Homo sapiens: one gene and its partner. The protein of the gene in region 1 interacts with the protein of each later gene in a pairwise test. Each region holds a gene or a part of one and is shown on either strand. Other genes may lie near its edges.

What was found. The genes of interacting proteins can lie anywhere in the genome.
Region 2: the proteins of NFIX (region 1) and QRICH1 interact in binary tests that used the Homo sapiens proteins (3 or more experiments, as listed by UniProt).

The regions. Positions count from the first base shown.
Region 1 is NC_000019.10:12,990,571-12,999,510, forward strand, and holds the start of NFIX (nuclear factor 1 X-type), read left to right. Parts: upstream 1-4,904; 5' UTR 4,905-5,267; coding exon 5,268-5,294; intron 5,295-8,940.
Region 2 is NC_000003.12:49,029,207-49,036,038, reverse strand, and holds the end of QRICH1 (transcriptional regulator QRICH1), read left to right. Parts: intron 1-2,810; coding exon 2,811-2,919; intron 2,920-3,265; coding exon 3,266-3,417; intron 3,418-3,765; coding exon 3,766-3,856; intron 3,857-5,394; coding exon 5,395-5,587; 3' UTR 5,588-6,332; downstream 6,333-6,832. Other genes in the region: IMPDH2 (inosine-5'-monophosphate dehydrogenase 2), read left to right, coding at 6,689-6,786. UniProt on the Homo sapiens protein: Transcriptional regulator that acts as a mediator of the integrated stress response (ISR) through transcriptional control of protein homeostasis under conditions of ER stress.

The DNA of each region.
Region 1 (8,940 bases):
GCAGGCAGCCGCAGCACTCCTGAAACTTTAAACGGTGTTAAAAGTTTCTGTTTACGAGAAACCCTTGAATTTTTAAGGACATATCGATTCCCTGCTCCACAGCCTTGCCTCGGTGGCGTGGCGGCCTCAGGCACAGTGGGGAGGCCCAGACTGGAGGGAGCCGGGGTTCCGAGGCCCCCAAGCACCGAATGACAGATACACGCCTACCCAGACACACTCTCAGGCACACAGGGACGCGATCCCTGATACACTCACACACACACAGCTAGTCACACACAGACATGGCCTGACACAGACACACATATCAGGACACACAGAGACCCCTCCCTGACACTGACACACGCATACACCAGTGTGTGTATACACACACCGACATGGCCTGACACACACACAGACTCACATCTCTGACACAGGTTTACATTGACCCCCCTCCCTGACACACACACACCCACCCACACACACCCACCCACACACACATACACTCCTAGTTACACACACTGATATGGCCTCACAGACACACACATTGACATGGCCTGACACACACAGACTCACATCTCTGATACAGGTTCACAGGGACTCCCCCTTCCCTGGCACACACACATACACACACCTAGTCACATACACTAACATGGCCTCACATAGACACACACACACGACCTGACACACACAGACACATGTATCTGGACACACAGAGACCTCCTCCCTCATACACAGACACACACACCGACATGGCCTCGCTCTCGCTCTCTCTCACACACACAAACATGCACACACGCATGGCTACACACACTCTCTGGCATGGCCTGACACACACAGGCTCACATCCTTGTCACACAGAGCCCCCATGTCCTGACAGCCCTGATCCCTGACACTCCTGAGCACCTGTGTACACACCCTGGTACACAAAGATCCTCATCACCGCCCTAGGTCCACATAGCAAAACACACACCTAGTGACACCCATTGACACTTTCTGCCCCACAGACCCTGATCACAAACAGGGCTGGCTATGCCCATTGGGCTCTTGCAAGCAGGTCCCAGACCCACTGGGACCCTTGCACAGTCACTCACGTGATCACACTTCAAGACACACACACACACAGACCCATATACACTGACACTGCACTGTTGTCCAGGCTGGAGTGCAGTGGCGCGATCATGGCTCACTGCAACCTCCGCCCCCTGAGCTCAAGCCATCCTTCCACCTCAGCTTTTGGAGTAGCTGAGACCACAGGCACGCACCACCACGCCTGGCTTTTTTTTTTTTTTTTTTTTTTTTGTATTTTTTGTAGAGATGGAATCTCATCATGTTGCCAAGCTGGTCTTGAACTCCTGACCTCAAGCAATCTGCCCATTTCAGACTCCTGAAGTGCTGGGATTATAGGCATGAGCCACCGCATCCGGCCTACACTGACACTTTTTTTTTTTGAGACGGAGTCTCGCTCTGTCGCCCAGGCTGAAGTGCAGTGGCGTGATCTCGGCTCACTGCAAGCTCCGCCTCCCGGGTTCACGCCATTCTCCTGCCTCAGCCTCCCAAGTAGCTGGGATTACAGGCGCCCGCCACCATGCCTGGCTAATGTTTTGTATTTTTAGTAGAGACGGGGTTTCACCGTGTTAGCCATGATGGTCTCGATCTCCTGACCACCCGCCTCGGCCTCCCAAAGTGCTGGGATTACAGGTGTGAGCCACCGTGCCCGGCTGGTGTTTGCTTGCTTGCTTGCTTGCTTTTCTTTTTCTTTCTTTTTCTTTTCTTTCTTTCTTCCTTTCTCTTTTTCTTTTTCTTTTCTTTCTTTCTTTCCTTTCTTCCTTCCTTCCTTTCCTTCCCTCCTCTTCCTTCTTTCTTTCTTTCCTTTGTTTCTTTCTCTCTCTCTCTCTTTTTCTTTTTTTCTTTTCTTTTTTTTGAGATAGAGCCTTGCTCTGTTGCTCAGTCTGGAGTGCAGTGGTTCGATCTCGGCTCACCGCAACCTCTGCCTCCTAGGTTCAAGCAATTCTGCCTCAGCCTCCTGAGTAGCTGGGATTATAGGCGCCTGCTACCATGCCCGGCTAAATTTTATATTTTTAGTAGAGATGGGGTTTCACCATGTTGGTGAGTCTGGTCTCGAGCTCCTGACCTCAGGTGATCTGCCTGCCTCGGCCTCCCAAGGTGCTGGGATTATAGGCATGAGCCACCACGCCTGGCCATGGTCTTTATTTTCTTCCCCCACCATGTCCCCAGTGCTTGGTATAGGACCGGGCAGGCACCTTCTCTGCCTCATGACACCTTAAGTACAAAGTCAGACCCAGTCTCTGCTGCACAACATACAGATCCACACAAAAAGATTCTTGCTTTGTTTTTTAAAATTTTTATTATTTATTTATTTATTTATTTATTTATTTATTTATTTATAGATGGAGTGTCGTTCTGTCACCAGGCAGGAGTGCAGTGGCGCGATCTCAGCTCGCTGCAACTTCCGCCTCCTGAGTTCAAGTGATCTCCGGCCTCAGCCTCCCGAGTAGCTGGGACTACAGGTACACGCCACCACACCCAGCTAATTTTTGTATTTTTAGTAGAGACGGGGTTTCACCATGTTGGCCATGATGGTCTCGATCTCTTGACCTCATGATCTGCCTGCCTTGGCCTCCCAAAGTGCTGGGATTACAGGCGTGAGCTCTCCCTTTCTCTCTCTTTCGTTTTGAGACAGAGTCTTGCTCTGTTCCCCAGGCTGGAGTGCAGTGGTATGGTCTTGGCTTACTGCAGCCTCTGCCTCCCAGGTTCAAGCGATTCTCCTGCCTCAGCCTCCCTAGTAGCTGGGATTACAGGCATCCCACCACGCCCAGCTAAGTTTTTTATTTTTAGTAGAGACAGGGTTTCACCATATTGGCCAGGCTGGTCTCAAACTCCTGACCTCAGGTGATCCACCCGCTTCGGCCTCCCAAATTGCTGGGATTATAGGTATGAGCCACCACGCCCAGCCAGACTCTTGCACCTATCATGACCTGCATTTCTTCAGTGTCCCCGGAAGACACCAGACCCATCTAGACACCCACAGACACACTGCCTGCCACACAGCCTAATACAGTATTGTGACAAGGAGCATATCGTTTCTGGGACATTTACACACATACTCACGTACACATGCATACTTTTGTGCCTGCTTGCAAGAGCCCAATGGGCACAGCCAACCCTGTGTGCGTGCGCACCCCCCGCCCTGGGCACTGACACCCCCTTTAACAGACAATGCATAGCTGAGAATTGCCACAGCTTTTTGGCCCAAGAGAGCAAGAAGGTGCTGGTTGCACCTGGCAGCAGGCGGGTGTTTTGTCTCAGCAGGAGCTGCCTGGGGGCTGTAGGCACTGCCTCCCCACCCACCCTGAGGGTTACCAGAGGGCTTCCTCTCCCCTTGCTCCAGGGTCCCCAGCACTACCTCTCCCCCCAGGCCTTTATGTTCTGAAAATGAGGAGTCAGGGCCCGCAAGAGGGGCTGGAACCTCACCAAAGTGTGTGTGTGTGTGTGTACATGTACGGAGGCCCTGATGCCCAATTCTGTCCCTGACAGCTGAGCTGTGGGTCTCCTGCTATATTTGCCTATGTCGATGATCAGGGCCACATTACAAGTGTGTTGGGGGGGGGGCACGTAAGGGACATGGGTGTATGTGTGTGATCCCTGTGTGCATGGCTAGATGATTCTCCCAGGGGGGTTGTCAGCCGCCTGGGCATCAGTTGGTCAGTGTGTCCAAGGCCTGTGGGTACATCTGGGCAACCCAGTGTGTGTGTGTGTGTGTGTGTCTGTGTGTTGTGTTGTGACAGCCAGTGTTGCTTTGTATCTGTGACGCTGTGTATCTCTTTGTATTGGGGTCCTTTGCATTCACTTCCAGGTGTTTGGTGTGTGTTTATGTGACATTGTGTATCTTCCCTTCATTAGTGTCATCTTATTTATTTAGTTATTTTTTTTCAGACAGGGTCTTGCTCTGTCACCCAGGTTGGAGTGCAATGGCACTATCATGGCTCACTGCACCCTTGACCTCCCCGGGCTCAAGGGATCCCCCCACTTCAGCCTCCTAAGTAGCTGGGACCACAGGCATCCACCACCACACCCAGCTAATTTTTGTATTTTTGGTAGAGAGGGGTTTTGCCATGTTGTCCAGGCTGGTCTTGAACTCCTGAGCTCAAGCAATCCACTGGCCTCGGCCTCTCAATCATCAGTGTCATTCTGTACATCGGGGTGTACTGCCACAACTGCCAGTGTGTTCTGGCACTGCGATGTGTGTGTGTTGTGTATGTGTCTGCGTGTAGGAATTGTGTGTCTGGAAGGTGTCAGCGTGTGGCTGTGTGATCTTGCATGTGTCTGTGTTCTGCAGGAACATGCGTCAGTGTGTGTGCATCAGTGTGCATCTCTATGTGTCATGCACTGGTGTGTCTTCGTGTATATCAGTGTGTGTCTACGTGACGCCTGCTTTGGTGTATGTCTATACGCGGTTCCTTGTTGTGTGCCTGGATACCATGGTGGGACGGTGCATGTCAGAGCGTGGGTCGTGGGTGTTTTCCCAGACTGCTGTGTGTGTGTGCCCGTGTGTAGGGGTTGTGTGTCTGTGCCTTGTGTGCACTGGTGTCCGAGTGTGCTTTGTGTTCGAAGGCGGAACGTGTGGCCAGGCGTTCTGGACGTGACATGTGTGGCGGGGTCCGAGTCCCGCTGCGTGTCAGCGTGTGTCTGCGCTGGAACGCGGGCCAGCACGTGTCAGGGCGGCCGCGTCGGTGTGCGCCCCCGCGCGCGCGTGTGCGTGTGTTCGTGTGTGTGTGTGCATGTGTGTGCTTGTGTGTGTGCGCCGGCCGCCGCTCCCCCGCCCTGCCCGCCCCTCCCCGCGCCCCTCCTCCCGCCCGCGCCGCCCGCCCGCTCCCTCTCCCCGGAGTGCGCCGCTTCCAAACTTTGTCTAAACTTTCACTTTCACAGCGCGGCGGCTGCGGCGGCGGCGGCGGCGGGCGAGGGTGACCGGCCGAGCGGCGGCGGCATGGAGTAGACGCGCGGCGGCAGCGGCGGCGGCGGCGGACGCGAGAGGCAGCGGCGAGCGCGGCGGCGGCGGCGGCAGCGGCGGCCCCGGAGCCGGCGGGGCCGAGCTTGCGAGCGGCGAGCGCGGAGCGGCGCCGGGCCGAGCGCGGGGCCGCGGGCCGGGCGGGCGCAGCGCGGCGGAGGCCGGAGGAGCCGAGCCGGAGCCCGAGCCCGAGCGCGGCCGCCGCCTGCCGGGCCTCCCCTCGCCGCGGCCGGCCGCCGCGCTCCCGCCCGGGCGCCCAGCTATGTACTCCCCGTACTGCCTCACCCAGGTACCGGCCGCCGCCCCCGCGCGACCGGGGGAGGGGAGCGGGCGCGGGAGGCCGGCCGGCGGCGCGGGCGGAGGGGACGCGCGGCGGCCGGGAAGGGGGGGCCGAGAGCCCGCGGGCCGCCGAGGGGTGCAGGCTGTGCCGCGGGGAGCCCAGGCACGCGTGCGGGCGTCACCGTGCGCGTGCGACCCTGGCCACCGGGCGGACTCCTTTTGGGGGTTCCGGGGGTGGCCAGCTGCGTCGTGGCGCTGCCCGTGGAGCGCAGGCGGGAGTGCGTGTACGTGTGTGTGTGTGTGTGTGTGTGTGTGTGCGCGCTCGACTGGGGTGCGATGGGCAGCGGGACTCCGGCTGACCTGTGGGCTACTGTAGCGCGCACCCGGGCAGCGTGGTCGCTGGCAGTGTTTGCGGGGTTGACAGAGTGGCAAGAGGGTGGTCCCGAGGGCGCAGAGGGGACACTGGGTCCCGCGACGCTTCCTGGGGAGGGCGCAGCGGTTCCCGAGGGTGGCAGTGGCCGGCGTGCGTGGCGGCGGCCCTTGCGTGCGGCCGGGGTGCCTGGGGTGGGCCGAGCGGCCCGGGCGTCTCCCCAAAGTCTTTGTTTAGGCCTCACATGGGAGCGGGGCTAAGAAAATGGCGGGGCTCCCAAATTTCGGAGGGGCAGGGGAGGGGAGAGGGGGGCGGGCGCGCTGCCAGCGGTGGCCGCGCCTCTCCGACCCCGGACGTCGCAGCCTCTGCCCCCCCACCCCCAAACTTTCCTCGGCGCAAACTTTCTGGCCCCAGCGACCCGGGCTGCTGCGGAGTGGACCCGGCAGGCCTGGGGAATCCCGTCCCGTCGCCTGGAGGCGGGAGGGGCGGGAGGCAGCCGTGGACACAGCCGACAGTGCTGCGGCCACACCGTCGGGTCAGCCTCGGGCACAACAGCGCCGACCTTGGCGCGTTGCTAGAGCGCGTCCCGCCTGCAGCGAAGTTCCCTGCGCGGCGCACGGCTGCGGCAAAAGCTTCGAGGATGCCTGTCGGGCCACCCAACTCTCCCTGGGCTGTGGCCTGAGGCTCTAAGAGGGCACAGAAGCTGCCCAGAGTCCCACAGTGGCCCTGACAGCGTTGCCTGCAGGGCCAAGCCACAGCTGGTAACAGTCTCCGAAGAGGGGACATCTAGGGGCTGCTTAGCCCTGCTGCCAGCCAGGCCTGCATGTGGGGGTTCTCTAGGCCAGGCCCTAATTGTCCCCTCTGCCCAGCCTGATCCTTGTCAGCCATGTGCCAAGTGTGTCCACAGCTTACAGTGGCAGTCCACATGGGTATGGCTCCTACTTTGTCTGGGTCCTACCGGGAGTGTGCAGTGGTGTCAAGGGGCGAGGGGTTTGTCGGGGTGTGTGTCAGCTGTGGCTACACCACACTCCTGTATGCACAGGTGAGAGTGTATGCAAGTGTGAATCAATCTAGAGTCTGTGTGTAGCCCCTGTGGGCCGGCCATGGGCAGGCCTGCGTGGCATGGCCGTGTGTGTGGCCCAGGGAGCGGGTTTTCCTGTAGAAAGCAGGCCCAAGTACGTGTTGGCGAGGGCGCACCGGCATGCATACATGTTGCAGTGTGCATGCAGGTGTGAGCAGGCACCCTGAGCACCATGGCAGTGTGGGGAACCCCCACATCTGCACCTCCAGTTCCACGGCCACTCCATGTTGGGCGCCCCTCACAACAACTGCCTACCCAGCGGTGTCTGAGCTGGGCCTCTTTGGTGCTACACTTGGCTGGGCTGTGTGGCCGATGTTTGGGGCCTAGTGGAACCAAGACCCCACGCTCAAGCAGCCCCTTGCCCACCAGGCTGCCAGCCCGGCCTCCCATGCCAAGCACGCCAGACATCTGAGCCTGCTCCCCCATGGCTTGGGTGAGACACCAGCCCCTCAGATTTCACAGCACCCTGGGAGAGAAAATGCCTGTGGATACGCCGGTGACATGGCTAGGAAGGGGCTGGGGCGGCTGCGAGACCCAGGGCGATGGCCGGTGCTTGGCTCTGTGTGATTGTAGGCCCAGGTTACGACAGTTCCAGTGTGCCAGGATGGCTGGAGAGGGGAGTGGGCATGGTGTCTCCAGGCTGCCAGCCCTTCATGGTGGGCAGGGAAACCCTTCAGCTCTGGGCAGGTGGCTGCTGTCGGCTGGTCAGTGGGGTCTGGCCTGCCCCTCCCTAACAATCACATCTCTGTTTTTACAAATCTTTCTGCTTCCATGGTTTGCCCCGCTGGTCTCTGTTTTTATGACAACCTCTTTCCTTTGCTGTCTTTTTCTCGGTCTGTTTTTATCGGTCTCTGGTGTATTCTGCCCTTTTCCATCTCTCTTTCTCCATCTCTGTCCTTTTGTATGTCTCTGACTGTCTCTGTCTCTGATTCCAGTTTTGGCCCCATCTCTGCTCCCCCCTCCACTGGCGTCTCGGACTCTCTCTCTCTCTGTCTCTCTGGCCTGCCTCTCTCTCTTTCCCTCTCTCTCTCTCCCTTTTCTTTTTTTCAAACCAGAATTGGCTTCGATTTTAAAGTCAATAAATGATTGAGCAGGAACGAGCTTGGAGCAGCGGGGCCCTGGCGGGGAAAGGTACTGTGGGCGAGGGGGAAGGGCGGGGGGAAAAATCTCCTTCTAGAAAAAGCATCGAAATTCAGGGCGGCCGGGTGGGGCGGTTCCTGGAGCTGCTGGAGTCCATTGTAGCCACAGTCCTGAGTCTCAGGCGGAGAGAGGGGTGGGGGGTGGATGGATGGACCCCCATCCCCATCCCAACCCTGCCAAGAAACAGAGACACAACCAGGATGTGAACTCACGTACACCACCATCACCGCCAAGATGGGGATGTAAGTGTCCTGTTCACACCGATGTCCAGACCCACGACCATCGACGAGCCTACAGACCTACGGACACAGGAAACCGACGACTTGTGTTCACACTGTCACACACACCCATTAACACACACGCACCTCTTGAAATGGGACACGTATATTGGTGTAGGCTTAGCGACACAGCAGTACCTCTTTGACGCACGTATGGACACAGGAAACTGTGGACTTGTGTTCACAACCACCCCCAGCGCACACATAAACACTCACAAACCCCTCGAGATGATACAGATAGCGACGAAGGCACATGGAGACCACGACACCTCCCAGACTCATGGAGCCCTGAGCACATGCTTGGATACAGGTAGACACAAATGTGTGTTCACCCCCACACATGCTCACATGGACCCAAGGACGGACAGGCGGATGGATGGATACACATCTTTACACAGAGACATAATGCAGTTGGCTCGCTCAGGTGTGTACACAAATAACTTTTCTTTTTCTATTTTTTTTTTTTTTGAGACGGAGCCTTGCTCTGTCGCCCAGGTTGGAGTGCAGTGGCGTGATCTCGGCTCACTGTAACCTCTGCCTCCCGGGTTCAAGCAATTCTCTGCCTCAGCTTCCCGAGTAGCTGGGATTACAGGTGCCCGCCACCACGCCCGGGTAATTTCTGTATTTTTTAGTGAAGATGGGGTTTCACCATCTTGGCCCGGCTGGTCTTGAACTTCTGACCTCGTGATCCACCTGCCTCGGCCTCCCAAAGTGCTGGGATTACAGGCATGAGCCACTGCACCCGGCCACAAATACCTTTTCAAACACACACACACACACACACACA
Region 2 (6,832 bases), on another chromosome or scaffold:
TCTTGCCTCACTGCAACTTCTACCTCCTGGGCTGAAGCAATCCTTCTACCTCTCAGCTTCCCAAGTAGCTGGGACTGCAGGTGCATACCACCACACCTGGCTAGTTTTTGTTTTTTTTTTTTTTTTTGTAGAAATGGGGTTTTGCCATGTTGTCTAGGCTGGTCTCAAACTCCTAGGTTCCAGTGATCCACCTGCCTTGGCCTCCCAAGGTTACACCCATGAGCCACCATGCCCAGGCTATTTTAGTTTTTCTTACAGGGTCTTGCTTTGTCTCCCAGGCTGGAGTACAATGTCATGATGATAGTTCACTGCTGCCTCACCCTGTTGGGCTCGGGCTGGGACCCAGGCTCAAGCCATTGCACTCAGCTGTTTTTTTTTGTTTTTTTTTTTAAGGTTTTTGTATTGACAGGGTCTCCCTATGTTGCCCAGGCTGGTCTTGAACTCCTGGGTTCAAGCAGTCCTCCTACCTTGGCTTCCCAATGTGCTGAGATTATAGACATGAGTAACCACACCCAGCCAAGTTTATTACAAATTGTAGAGAAGAGAATAAAATTAGGGAAGTGACATCAGAGGGAGCAAGTGACAGAGCGAACCCAGAGAAGTGGAACATGCCAAAGTATGGCAATAATTGTTCCCAGGAGAAAAATTATTTTTTTAAGAAAAGGAAGGCCAGGCATGGTGGCTCCCGCCTGTAATCCCAGAACTTTGGTAGGCCGAGGTAGGAGAATTGCTTCAGCCCAAGATTTGAAGACCAGCCTGGGCAACATAGCAAGACCTCATCTCCACTAAAAATCAAAAAAAATAATCGAGTGTGATGGTGCACACCTGTGATCCCAGCTACTAGGGAGGCTGAGGTGAGAGGATTCCTTGAATCCTTCTTTGCTGAGAAGGGCTGTTTTCTGCTCATCCTGGATCTTGGGGGCTTCAGATATGTCTAAGAGCAGAAAAGCTTTTCCCATTGCCACTGGGTCACAAAATAGCCGAAAAGTAGACAAAAAATAGAGTCAGAACTGCCTTAAAGAGATGGAAATGCACTATTAGAGAGCCAGCTTTGTTTTGGCAAGAGCATAGAACACAGAAGAGGAGTGTATCGGGCAGAATGTTCTTTTTTCTGCTTCCAGGAAGTGTCACACACTGTGCTTGCTTGGAGAATCCCGAAACCCTGCAGGAGAATACTGTTGCCTGCTCCTATCTCATTATGCACCCAGTGCACAAACATGTGCATACTGACTGACTTCAGCACATGAAGGGGCTTGGTAGTCATTCAAATGTCATCTTTCTTTGGTGCAGACCTGGCTGACCAGGGCTCTTATTCAAATTATTGACCTTTGCCTGTACCTAGCTCTGGGCTCACTTATGAACCAGGGTCTTACAGTAACACCAGCCCTGTGGGGGGGATCTTGTAATAGTTCAAATACTGGCATATTGGCTAGGCGTGGTGGTTCACGCCTGTATTTCTAACTGCTCAGGAAACTGGCAGGAGGAGTCTTTGAGTCCAAGAGCTCAAGGCTGCAGTTAGCCATGATTGTGTCACTGTACTCTAGCTTGGGTGACAGAGCGAAACCCCATCTCTTTTTTTTCCCTTTTTTTTTTTTTTGAGACAGGATCTCACTCTGTCACCCAGGCTTAAGTACAGTGGTGCGATCACGGCTCACTGCAGCCTTGACCTCCCAGGCCCAAGGAATCCTCCCACCTCAGCCTCCCTGGTAGCTGGGATCACAGATGTGCACCATCACACGACTAATTTTTTTGATTTTCAGTGGAGATGAGGTCTGGCTATGTTGCCCAGGCTGGTCTTCAACTCTTGGGCTCAAACAATTCTCCCACCTCCGCCTCCCAAAGTTCTCGGATTACAGGCGTGAGCCACCATGCCTGGTCTTCCTTTTTTAAAAAAAGATAAATATTGTAGAAGAGACCCTGTATCTTAGCTAATAATAATAATAATAATAATAATAATAAAATCCCCCAAAGAGTATCAGTCTCTTTATCTAGAGAAGAAATGACAATAGCCGTTTTTTTTGTTTTTTTTGTTTTTTTGTTTTTTTGTTTTTGAGATGGGAGTCTCGCTCTGTTGCCGAGGCTGGAGTGCAGTGGTGCAATCTCGGCTCACTGCAAGCTCCACCTTCTGGGTTCACACCATTCTCCTGTCTCAGCCTCCCGATTAGCTGGGACTACAGGAGCCCGCCACCACACCCGGCTATTTTTTGTGTTTTTAGTAGAGACGGGGTTTCACCATATTGGCCAGGATGGTCTCAATCTCCTGACCTCGTGATCCACCCGCCTCGGCCTTCCAAAGTGCTGGGATTACAGGCATCAGCCACTGCGCCTGGCCGGCCTTGCTTTTTAGAGACAGTTGAGATGAGAGAAGACTTGGTAAGGGCAAACGGGCGTGCATGCCAGTTCTTTGGGTCCTGGACCACCTTTGAAAATATGCAAAGCTCTGTACACTCTCAGAGAATTATGCATATATGCAGAGTTTGGTTTATAGTTTTCTGTACTTCACTGTCTCTGAGGGCAGTCTTTTTGCCCTGTGTTAGCCTTGGATTAGAGGGTAACAACAATCATGTAAGGCTGTGGTTCTCAAGTGTGGTGTTAGAAGTGCTCATCATCAGGTTCCACCTCAGAAACAGATTGGGACCCAGCTATCTGTGTTTTAAGAAGCTTTCCAGATGATTTTTGCCACACTTTAGGGAGAGTCCCCTGATGAAATTTATACTCCTGTGTGGTCCTTATGCTTCACACATCCCATATTGTACCTTTGAGAGACCACCTGCCATCCTCTTGTTGTGACAGTACTCTATTCCTCCTAGGCTATGTCTTGCCCAGCCACGTGACTGAGGAGATGCTATGGGAGTGCAAGCAGCTTGGGGCTCACTCCCCCTCCACCTTGCTGACCACCCTCATGTTCTTTAATACCAAGTAAGTGTTCTAGAGGCTCCACTGCTGGCATCTGTCCAGTGAAGAGTGTGGAAGCTATCCAAGAGGCCTTCTGAATTCCTCTGACATATATTTGAGAAACTGGGCTACTGAAAGCCCTAACCCCACTTGGCTGCATTTTATTTGGTAACCAGTGAGGCAAACACCCTTGCCAGACCCCTACCATCCATCTTGATGTGGTTCCTGCACTGGACACTGCTTGGGTACGGGCCTGCCCAGATCTTGGGAATGTGGGCAGTGGCTCCTCTGAAGCACCAGTGGGCAGAGGATGAGTCATGGTATCCTCCCGGCACCCCTCCCTCTGCCTTGCATTTTACTTGTGATCCAGGTACTTCCTATTGAAGACAGTGGACCAGCACATGAAGCTGGCCTTCTCCAAGGTCTTGCGACAGACAAAGAAGAACCCCTCTAATCCCAAGGATAAAAGCACGAGTATCCGGTACTTGAAGGCCCTTGGAATACACCAGACTGGCCAGAAAGGTAGGGAAAGGAGGCAGGGATGGCAAAAACAGGTGCTACTTGTCCTGCCCTGTCCTGCCCTTGTGCCTGTGAGGCTAGTGATAAGTGTAAAGGTTGGGATTTGCTGGATAAAATTCTCCACTCCCTTCTCCCCAGCCAAAAATTCCAAACTTTCCTCCTAGAAGCAGAGAAGCCCCAGACAGAATAGCTGCCTCTTCCCTTAGTAGTCACTGCCCATGCCTCATACCTTCCCTCCCCCGACCCTGTATTTCCTAGTTGGGCTGGCTGAAAGCCTAAGTTTCCTGATCTGGGCCTGAGGTAAGGCAGTCTGATGCCAGGTCTGTGGTGGTGGGGATGTGTGTTTTATAGTTACAGATGACATGTATGCAGAACAGACGGAAAATCCAGAGAATCCATTGAGATGTCCCATCAAGCTCTATGATTTCTACCTCTTCAAATGGTGAGGCTTTATTGTGACTTGCTGTCCATGTGTGCGCATGTGTGTGTATGCGTGTGCATGCTCACTTGTGTGATCACTTATCATAGGGGAGAGGCATTCTCTAGTCCCAAACCAAGTAAAAACACTTCCAGAAAGCTAAATTTAGAAGCAGCCTTGCTCTGGCTTTCCAAAGGTGTGTGATGTGCCTAGCACTGATAGAAAAAGGGGTCCCGGGTCCCTACAGTCACCTTTCATGAAAAGGGTATGAAGGTACAGAGAATCTACCTTCATCACATATTGAGCATGGCCCTGCTTCCTGACCTTGACCTTTTGTCACTGCCATCATTAATCTAGGTGAGACTCCTCTCAGCTTTTTCTCCCTTTTGCCCCTTCAATGGTTTCTCATTACATAGTAATTCTTTTATGGCAGACAACTCCTTTGATGCACTCCCCCTTGCTAACCTCATGTCTGTGGAGCTCTTAGTTCCCTAGCCACACTAGCTCCTCTCCACTCAAGGACATCATATTATGCCTCTTCTCAACTTAAACACAGCTTATCAGGGAAGCATTTCCAGATTCCCCACCTCTTCCCTGTGACTGTTTCCTCGGTAGCACTTATCACTGTTTTTTATTTTGTATTTGTTTAACTTTAATTGCTACCTGTGTCCCCTCCTATCTGTAAGCTCCATGGGTAGGAAATACTTTTCCTGCCCATTTTTTTAAATATCAGCACCTAGTGCTGACCTGGCACTAGTAACCCTTGAATAAATCTTGAATGGATGGATGAATAACTGTTAGAGGATACAGCATGCCAAGTACTTAATAGAGGTACAGCACAGTTCGGGGGAGGGGGGTGAACCCAAGTTTAGGGCCCCACTGTAATGGCCATCATTATTGGGTAGAAAACACAACATGAGGCTGGGCACCGTGGCTCACGCCTGTAATCCAAGCACTTTGGGAGGCCAAGGTGGGTGGATCACCTGAGGTCAGGAGTTCGAGACCAGCCTGGCCAACATGGAAAAACCCCATCTCTACTAAAAAATACAAAAATTAGCTGGGCTTGGTGGCTCGTGCCTATGGTTCCAGCTACTCCAGAGGCTGAGGCAGGAGAATCGCTTCAACCAAGGGGGCGGAGGTTGCAGTGAGCTGAGATCACCTCACTGCACTCCAGCCTGGAGACAAGACGCCATCTCAAAAAAAAAAAAAAAAAAAGCGCAAAGACTTGGAGATAGACGCTTTGAGCAGTGAAGCTGGCTTCAAGTAGGATAAGGATAGACTCACATGAGTCCATGAGAGCCCTAGGCTGGTGCAGTCAGTGATGGATCACAGCTGGTTTGTGGGAAGGAGGGGCAGAGGGGAAGTAACCCAACATTTGGGGGATTTGCAGTAGTCCCAAAGGAGGACCAGGATGTAGTGTGTGGTGGCTGCATGGAATTCAGTAGCTGTGCCACAATAACTTGGGGCCTTACTGTTTGCAGACAGCATCTGTCTGGGAAGTTCAGGGTGGGAGGGTTGAAGTTATATTGGTGGTACCCAACTTTTATCCGCATATTCTTCAGCCCCCAGAGTGTGAAAGGCCGGAATGACACCTTTTACCTGACACCTGAGCCAGTGGTGGCCCCCAACAGCCCAATCTGGTACTCAGTCCAGCCTATCAGCAGAGAGCAGATGGGACAAATGCTGACGCGGATCCTGGTGATAAGAGAAATTCAGGAGGCCATCGCAGTGGCCAATGCAAGCACTATGCACTGAGATGCCTTGGCCATGGCACAAGAGAAACCAGCCAGGAAAAACCAGACAGACTTTCACACTAAAGAAGAGGCCTCCATTTTTTTTTTTCTTTTTTTTATTGGTGTAGTTACGAAGCCTTTCAGGCTGCTTCTGTTTAAAATATAAAAGAAAACTTTGCCCCCTTTGCATCTTCATAAACCTGCTGCGGCAGACTCCTCAGCCGATGGTGGCTCTGGGTTTCCTTGAGTGTCATATGTCCTAGAAAGTTGCTGGCTGACTCTTTTTTGTCTGGGGCCTGGGGAAAGGGCTTGGACTGTGAAAAGAAATGTGGCCCCTTTCCATCTTCAAGAGAGATGGAATTAATGATGGATGGACCCTGGAGGGAATCTCCCCAGCCGACTTCCACTGGGCTGACAGACTTTGCTGACCACAGGGGAACGATGTTCTTTTCTTTCTTCATGATCAGACATAAACTTAGCATCTTAATGGAAGAAAAATGAGGGGAACTTCAATTATGATTTATTAAAGACAATTTCTATTACACCCTCCTTTATGACAAGTGACATTTTAGATGTAAAAGTAAAAACTTTACCATGCCTTTTTTTTTTTTGTTGGCCTAACATTGAGGCCTTAAAACCTGAGGCTCCTGTGCCTGATGGAATTCTTGTAACATACACTTGTGTATCATATAAAGATACCACTCTGTTTCTCTTATGTATTCTTACTCTAGTTGTTTATTAAGAATGACAAGCACGTCTTTTCAACATGTTAGTGAACAACGTCTCTTTATTTTGGGGAGGAGCCCGGCGGGACAGTAGAAGTAAACCCTTGCCTGTTAATTGAACTGGCCGAGGTCCTGCGGGGAGTGTGGGGTGGGACGTGAAGTGGCAGCTCCTCAGTGACAAGGCCACTATGTGCTATACGCATGCGCTGTTTCTTCAGCGCCAGCTCCGCCCCCGCCGCAGCGAGGCGGGTAGGTTCCGCCCGCGCGCACTACGCCCTGACGTCAGCGTCGCGCGCAGCGCAGTGACGAAATCGGCTGGTTTATATTGGCGCGGCCCAGACGGCAGAGGTCTCTGCGGCGCGGTCCTCGGAGACACGCGGCGGTGTCCTGTGTTGGCCATGGCCGACTACCTGATTAGTGGGGGCACGTCCTACGTGCCAGACGACGGACTCACAGCACAGCAGCTCTTCAACTGCGGAGACGGCCTCACCTACAAGTGCGGGCCTATGGGGCTCACCTGGGCGAAGAGAGGGGCGGCACCC